2 linked regions of the Homo sapiens genome follow. The protein of the gene in region 1 purifies or fractionates together with the protein of each later gene. This does not show direct contact. Each region holds a gene or a part of one and is shown in the gene's direction. Other genes may lie near its edges. The genes, in order: CCR3 and HCK.

The links.
Region 2: the proteins of CCR3 (region 1) and HCK purify together in Homo sapiens (affinity purification with western blotting, with the first as the bait; one study listed by BioGRID). This does not show direct contact.

Annotation. Positions count from the first base shown.
Region 1 is NC_000003.12:46,245,460-46,249,275, forward strand, and holds part of CCR3 (C-C chemokine receptor type 3), read left to right. Parts: intron 1-3,816.
Region 2 is NC_000020.11:32,072,453-32,076,268, forward strand, and holds part of HCK (tyrosine-protein kinase HCK), read left to right. Parts: intron 1-866; coding exon 867-909; intron 910-1,263; coding exon 1,264-1,366; intron 1,367-2,170; coding exon 2,171-2,269; intron 2,270-3,816. UniProt on the Homo sapiens protein: Non-receptor tyrosine-protein kinase found in hematopoietic cells that transmits signals from cell surface receptors and plays an important role in the regulation of innate immune responses, including neutrophil, monocyte, macrophage and mast cell functions, phagocytosis, cell survival and proliferation, cell adhesion and migration.

The DNA of each region.
Region 1 (3,816 bases):
TTTAATTAAAAAAAAAAACTTTGATCCAGACCAAAGGCATACAAAAACAAAACAAAACAAAACAAAACCTAAAATGAATCCAAATATGATTATTTTCCTTTTTTTTAACTTTTATTTTAGGTTTGGGGGTACATGTGAAGCTTTGTTACGTAGGTAAACTCGTGCCATGGGGGTTTGTTGTACAGATTATTTCATCACCCAGGTATTAAGCCTAGTAGCCAATACTTGTTTTTCTGCTCCTCTCCCTCCTCCCACTCTCAAGTAGACCCCTGTGTCTGTTGTTCTCTTCTTTGTGTTCATGAGTTCTCATCATTTAGCTCCCACTTATAAGTCAGAACATGTCGTATTTGGTTTTTTCCCTGCATTAGTTTGCTAAGGATAATAGCTTCTAGCTCCATCCATGTTCCTGCAAAAGACACTATCTGTTTTTTTATGGCTGCATAGTATTCCATGTGTATATGTACCACATTTTCTTTATCCAATCTGTCATTGATGGGCATTTAGTTTGATTTCATGCAAAGGCTATTATTTTTCATACAAAACATTCCAAGTTCTGCCAACTATGGCTGATGTTTTGGGACTGTTATCATCCTACTTCCTTCTATAGTCTAGGTTGATACTAACCCTCTTAAAATTTGGTGCCTGGAACAGAACATAATATTTCAGATGTGTAGTCTGGACAGTGCAAAGCAGAGTAAAAATTATTCTACTCCATCCTTTCATACACTTAAGAAGAGTTTATTAAGCATCTTTCATTTGTCAGGCATCATGCTGGACACTAGGCCTGTACTGTCCACTATGGTGGCTACTTGCTTTTATGCGTGTCCGTGTGAAGAGACCACCAAACAGGCTTTGTGTGAGCAACATGGCTGTTTATTTCACCTGGGTGCAGGCGGGCTGAGTCCGAAAAGAGAGTCAGCGAAGGGAGATAAGGGTGGGGCCGTTTTATAGGATTTGGGTAGGTAGAGGAAAATTACAGTCAAAGGGGGTTTGTTCTCTGGCGGGCAGGAGTGGGGGTCGCAAGGTGCTCAGTGGGGGTGATTTTTGAGCCAGGATGAGCTAGGAAAAGGACTTTCACAAGGTAATGTCATCACTTAAGGCAAGGACCGGCCATTTTCACTGCTTTTGTGGTGGAATGTCATCAGTTAAGGTGGGGCAGGGCATATTCACTTCTTTTGTGATTCTTCAGTTACTTCAGGCCATCTGGGCGTATATGTGCAAGTCACAGGGGATGGGATAGCTTGGCTTGGGCTCAGAGGCCTGACATTCCTGCCTTCTTATATTAATAAGAAAAATAAAACAAAATAGTGTTGAAGTGTTGGGGTGGCGAAAATTTTTGGAGGGTGGTATGGAGAGAGAATGGGCGATGTTTCCCAGGGCTGCTTCAAGCGGGATTAGGGGCGGCGTGGGAACCTAGAGTGGGAGAGATTAAGCTGAAGGGAGGTCTTGTGGTAAGGGGTGATATTGTGGGGATGTTAGAAGAAACATTTGTCGTATAGAATGATTGGTGATGGCCTGGATATGGTTTTGTATGAATTGAAAAACTAAATGGAATAAGAGAAGGAGAAAAACAGGTATAAAAGGTCTAAGAATCGGGAGGACCTAGGACATCTGATTAGAGAGTGCCTAAGGAGATTCAGCATAGTCCTGCCAGCAAAGATTATTTATTTACTTCAAGAGTTAAGAGCGGCGGTTTGGGGATAGCACGAGGAGATATCAGCTGTGATGGCTTGAAAAAACAGTGTAAACTGGCAGTGTAAACAAGAGCAGGGCATGTATGAGTAGTTGAGAACAGAGAACAGGAGTATGACTAGATAGAAAATAGTAGGGATGACAAGTTTTTTTGGGGCACAGTCTAAGGTGGTCCGGTGTCTGGAATGAGACTGGGGGCCTAATGAAAAGGAGCATCTATACAGGAACTTAAATGGGCTGTACCTTATAGCATTCCGAGGACAGGTCTGACTTCTGAGAAGGGAAAGTGGTGAAAGTATTGTCCAGTTCTTTTTAAGTTGGTGGCTGAGCTTGGTGAGGTGTGTTTTTAAAAGACCTTTAGTCCGTTCTACTTTTCTTGAAGACAGAGGACTATAAGGGATATAAAGGTTTCACTGAATACTAAGAGCCTGAAAAACTGCTTGGCTGATTTGACTAATAAAGGCTGGTCTGTTATCAGACTGTATAGAGGTGGGAAGGCTAAACTGAGGAATTATGTCTGACAGAAGGGAAGAAATGACTGCGGTGCCCTTCTCAGACCCTGTAGGAAAGGCCTCTACCTATCTAGTGAAAGTGTCTACTTAGACTAAGAGGTATTTTAGTTTTTGTGACTCAGGGCATGTTGAGTAAAGCTAATTTGCCAGTCCTGGGCAGGGGCAAATCCTCGAGCTTGATGTGTAGGGAAGGGAGGGGGCCTGAATAATCCTTGAGGAGTAGTAGAATAGCACATAGAATAGCAGATGGAACACTGAGAAGTGATTTCCTTGAGGATAGATTTCTACAATGGAAAGGAAATGAGAGGTTCTAAGAGGCAGGCTAGTGGCTTGTACTATAGCATAGCCTGCCTTTGCTGGTGTGTGGTGATTAGGCCTGGTGGAACTGCCATCAATAAATCAAGCATGATCAGGGTGAGGAACAGGAAAGAAGGAGATATGGGGAAATGGGGTGAATGTCAGGTGGATCAGAGAGATACAGTCATGAGGGTCAGGTGTGGTTTCTGGAATAATGTGGGAGGCTGGACTGAAGTCCGGGCCAGGAATGATGGTAATTGTGGGAGACTTAACAAAGAGTGAGTACAGCTGAAGGAGCCAAGGAGCAGAAAGTATATGCATCAGGTATGAGGAAGAAAATAGATTTTGGAAGTTATGAGAAATGTAGAGAGTGAGTTGAGCATAGTTTGTGATTTTTAGGGCCTCTAAAAGTATTAAAGCAGTGGCAGCTGCTGCATGCAGACATGAGGGCTAGGCTAAAACAGTAAGATCAAGTTGTTTGGACAGAAAGGCTACAGGGTGCAGTCCTGGCTCTTGTGTAAGAATTCTGACTGCACTAACCATGCCTAGGAAGGAAAGGAGTTGTTGTTTTGTAAGGGATTGAGGTTTGGGAGATTAATCGGACAGGATCAGCAGGGAGAGCACGTGTGTTTTTATGAGAATTATGCCGAGATAGGTAACAGATGACGATGAAATTTGGGCTTGACTGAAGTAATGGGGGCTGTCTGTGAAACCTTGTGGCAGTACAGCCCAGGTAATTTGCTGAGCCTAATGGGTGTCAGGGTCAGTCTAAGTGAAAGCAAAGAGAGGCTGGGATGAAGGGTGCAAAGGAATAGTAAAGAAAGCATGTTTGAGATCCAGAACAGAATAATGGGTAGTAGAGGGAGGTATTGAGGATAGGAGGTTATATGGGTTTGGCCCCACGGGGTGGATAGGCAAAACAATTTGGTTGATAAGGTGCAGATTCTGAACTAACTTGTAAGGCTTGTCTGGTTTTAGGACAGGTAAAATGGGGGAATGGTAAGGAGAGTTTATAGGCTTTAAAAGGCCATGCCTTAGCAGGCGAGTGATAACAGGCTTTAATCCTTTTAAAGCGTGCTGTGGGATGGGATCTTGGCATTGAGCAGGGTAAGGGTGATTAGGTTTTAACGAGATGGTAAGGGGAGCATGATTGGTCGCCAAGGAGGGAGTAGAGGTATCTTATACTTGTGGGTTAAGGTGGGGGAATACAAGAAGAGGACGCAAAGGAGGCTTTGGATTGGGAAGAAGGGCAGCAATGAGATGCGGCTATAGTCCAGGAATAGTCAGGGAAGCAGATAATTTGGTTAAAATATCT
Region 2 (3,816 bases), on another chromosome or scaffold:
TTTGGGAGGCTGAGGCAGGAGGATTACTTGAGCCCAGGAGTTCGAACTGCATGAGCTATGATCACGCCACTGCACTCCAGCCTGGGCAATACAGGGAGACCCTGTCTCTTTAAAAAAAAAAAAAAAAAAAAAAAAAAAGAGCTGCTTAGAATGCCATAGTTTAGGTGTCACTTCCCCCTTGCATGGACACTTAGATTGTTTCACATACATAACAGAGCCTTTATTTATGGAATATAAATCACTGGTGGGCCTGTGATTTCTCCAAACTTAGTCGGAAAACACTGATCTGGACCGACCCCTTCACTGTGTGTTGAGGGGAGGGGTCAAGCAGCATCCCCCGGTACATCCAAGACCGAAGGCCGAGGTCACAGCTCAAGAAACCTGGATCCTGGCTGGGCACAGTGGCTCACTCCTGTAATCCCAGCACTTTGGGAGGTCAGGAGTTCTAGACCAGCCGGGCCAACATGGTGAAACCCCATCTCTACTAAAAATACAAAATTAGCCAGGCATGGTGGCATGCGCCTGTAATCCCAGCTACTTGGGAGGCTGAGGCAGGAGAATCACTTGAACCCGAGAGGTGGAGGTTTCGGTGAGCTGAGATCACGCCACTGCACTCCAGCCTGGGTGACAGAGTGAGATTCCATCTCAAACAACAGCAACAACAAAAAATCTGGACCATTTTGTTTGCTGGCTCTGCCCCTAATGTGCCGTGTGGTGCCAGGCATGTCCCCTGCCGTATGTGGGCCTCCTCCCACGACATGCAGGGCTAGGGTAAGATGCTCTTGGGTGTCCTTCTCAACACAGACCTTCCACGGGTCCCCACACATTGGTCAGATTCATTCTCTTCTCTCATTTCTTCCCCACAGGGGCCTAATAGCCACAACAGCAACACACCAGGAATCAGGGAGGGTAAGTATCTACGAGCAGATGCAGTGGAGTCATGTGTCCTGCAGAGGACTCCGCTAGGTTCTCCCTTAGCTTGAGGCATAAATCCCAAACAGTCAAACCCCTGTCGAGAATCCCCAAAATTTCCTCTGAAGTGCTTTGCGCAGGCTATTGTGTTTCTAGAACGCTGTTTAGTAACATGAACAAAACATATTTAGCTTTAAACTTGAGAATCACACCCAGCATGGTGAGACGCCTACTTATACTTGGAACCACATATCGATGGGTGCGGAGCTGTTCCAGGTGCCGGGTGAGGGTCACCAAGGGCTGTGGATGCACTTAGACGAAACCTCACCCTCTGTGTGTCTCCCTTCCCAGCAGGCTCTGAGGACATCATCGTGGTTGCCCTGTATGATTACGAGGCCATTCACCACGAAGACCTCAGCTTCCAGAAGGGGGACCAGATGGTGGTCCTAGAGGAGTGAGTCCCCATCCCACTCCCCCTAAGACAGACCTGCCTCCTCTACTCAACTATGTGCTCTTTTGTGCTTCCATAAAGAACCTGATAGATGGGCTATCTTATCCTGGGTATAAATGTCTAATGAGAAGCTAATCACAATAGTGGAGGAAGGGTTTGCTGTCAACCTGGATGAAGGGGATTGTGCACTTACTGAGAGTGCACGTCCAGCCTGAGATGAACAGGTGACGCTTTCTCAGGGAAGCCTTTCTAGGGCTCCTGCGATTAAGCCACCGGCTTTACCTGTGGACCAGGCCCCATCGAGTCGACCTTGCATTTGGAAATCCTTGGATCTCTGAGTTTGCCACCTCGGATCTCCTACAGCCTTCACCATCATGGGTATAGTGTCCAGGATGTGCTGAAGCCCGAGAACGGGAGTGGTCATGCCTGGTCGGACTCCCAAGCCCACTCTCCCCTATTCTCAGCCCCAGCTGAACCATTCTGAGTCTCTATAGGCACAGGACCCTGCCATGGGTATAGCTAATAAGACCAAAGCTGCAAGTCCAGGGAAAAGGAGTGGAGCCAGAGACCCAGGGCTCTGGGCTGTGGACAGGGAGATTCCAGACCCTCAGATGCACAGCAGGAACTGTTGTAAGGATCCCTACCCTAATCATGGCCACATGCTGGGGCTGACATAGTCACAGCCCTGTCCTTCACCCTACTGGCTTTCTGGAGGCAGGGAGTTTTCTAGGTCAAGGCTGGGGAGCTTGAGGAGACTGGAGAATGATCCTTCTGTCCCTAACACCTTTACTCCCTCATGTCCCTCAGATCCGGGGAGTGGTGGAAGGCTCGATCCCTGGCCACCCGGAAGGAGGGCTACATCCCAAGCAACTATGTCGCCCGCGTTGACTCTCTGGAGACAGAGGAGTAAGTATCCTATTTCCTACCTTCCAGAAAGAGGCATGAGCAAAGCCAGCCTTGTTTGCAACTCAGGACGTCTGCACACACTGTACCACTGCCTGGCACATACTCTTCCCAGGGCTCTGGGCTTGGCTGGCTCCTTCTCTTCCTTCAGGTTTCATCCTTCCAGTCAGGGAAGAGAGGCTAAAGTGGGTCCCAGCTGTGACTCTGTCTTGTGGAAACCTGTTTTAATCCCTTCTGAACATGTTTTACTAGCAAAACGACCTGGTTTCTTTGGTTGGTTACACGTGCATTCTCTGCCTGCCCTGCAAGGAAGAGAGCTGGTGAGAGCGGGGACTTTGTCTGCTTCTGCATCCTCGGCACAGGCTGGCATGCAGTCAGTGCTCAATAAATATTGTTGAATGAAGCACACGGTCTTGCCAAGGAGGGTTTCTGGAGAGGTGAGACAGCTCACACCTGGCCAGTCGTCCCTCATTTGTTGTTTTGTTTTGTTTTGAGACAGGGTCTCACTCTGTTGCCCAGGCTGGAATGCAGTAGCACCATCACAGCTCACTTCAGCCTCAGCCTCCCTGGGCTCAGTTGATCCTCCCACCTCAGCCTCCCAAGTAGCTGGGACTACAAGTGCGCATCACCATGCCCAGCTAATTTTTTTCTTTTTTGTATTTTTGGTAGAGAGGGGGTCTCTCTGTGTTGCCCAGGCTGGTCTCAAACTCCTGGGCTCAAGTGATCTTCTCGCCTCAGCCTCCCAAAATGCTGGGATTATAGGCCTGAACCACTGCACCTGGCCCATCCCTCATTTGATTCATTCGACAAGCACATGCTCATGACTCTTCAAGCCCTGTGCCAGCCTAAGGGGCTGTGGAAACAAATAAGATATATCCCTACCCTCAAGGAGCTCTCCATAACCCATCGTTCTTGGCTGTGGGTTCTTCTTGTGTCTAGCTTGACTCTAAAAATATACTTCAGTCATCCATCCATCCATCCATCCATTCATCCATCCATCCATCCATCCATCCATCCATCCATCATCCAACAGATACCTGTTGATTCCCTATTCCAGGGTTAGAAGATGACTTAGATGGGGCTCCCTGCTGGAGATGTTCTCTGTATGGTGGATGAGGTTGATGAGTAAAAAGATGACTACATTGTGGGGTGGCAATACATCCCATTAAAAACCAGCCAATCAAAAGTTGACAAATGACAGTCCCCATTGTTTTGTCTCTTCTGCCTCCTCTTTCTAGCTAGATGGTATTATGGGTTTGGGATGCTTGCCTGTTAAAAATGAAAACGCTTAGGCTTTTCCCATTATAAAGCCACCTCCTTCTGGCTGGGCATGGTGGCTCACACCTGTAATCCCAGCACTTCGGGAGGCCAAGGCACGCAGATCACCTGAGGTCAGGAGTTCGAGACCAGCCTGACCAACAAGGTGTAACCCCATCTCTACTAAAAATACAAAAAAAATTAGCTGGGTGTGGTGGTGCGTGCCTGTAGTCCCAGCTACTCGGGAGGCTGAGGCAGGAGAATCACTTGACTCCAGGGGGCAGAGGTTGCAG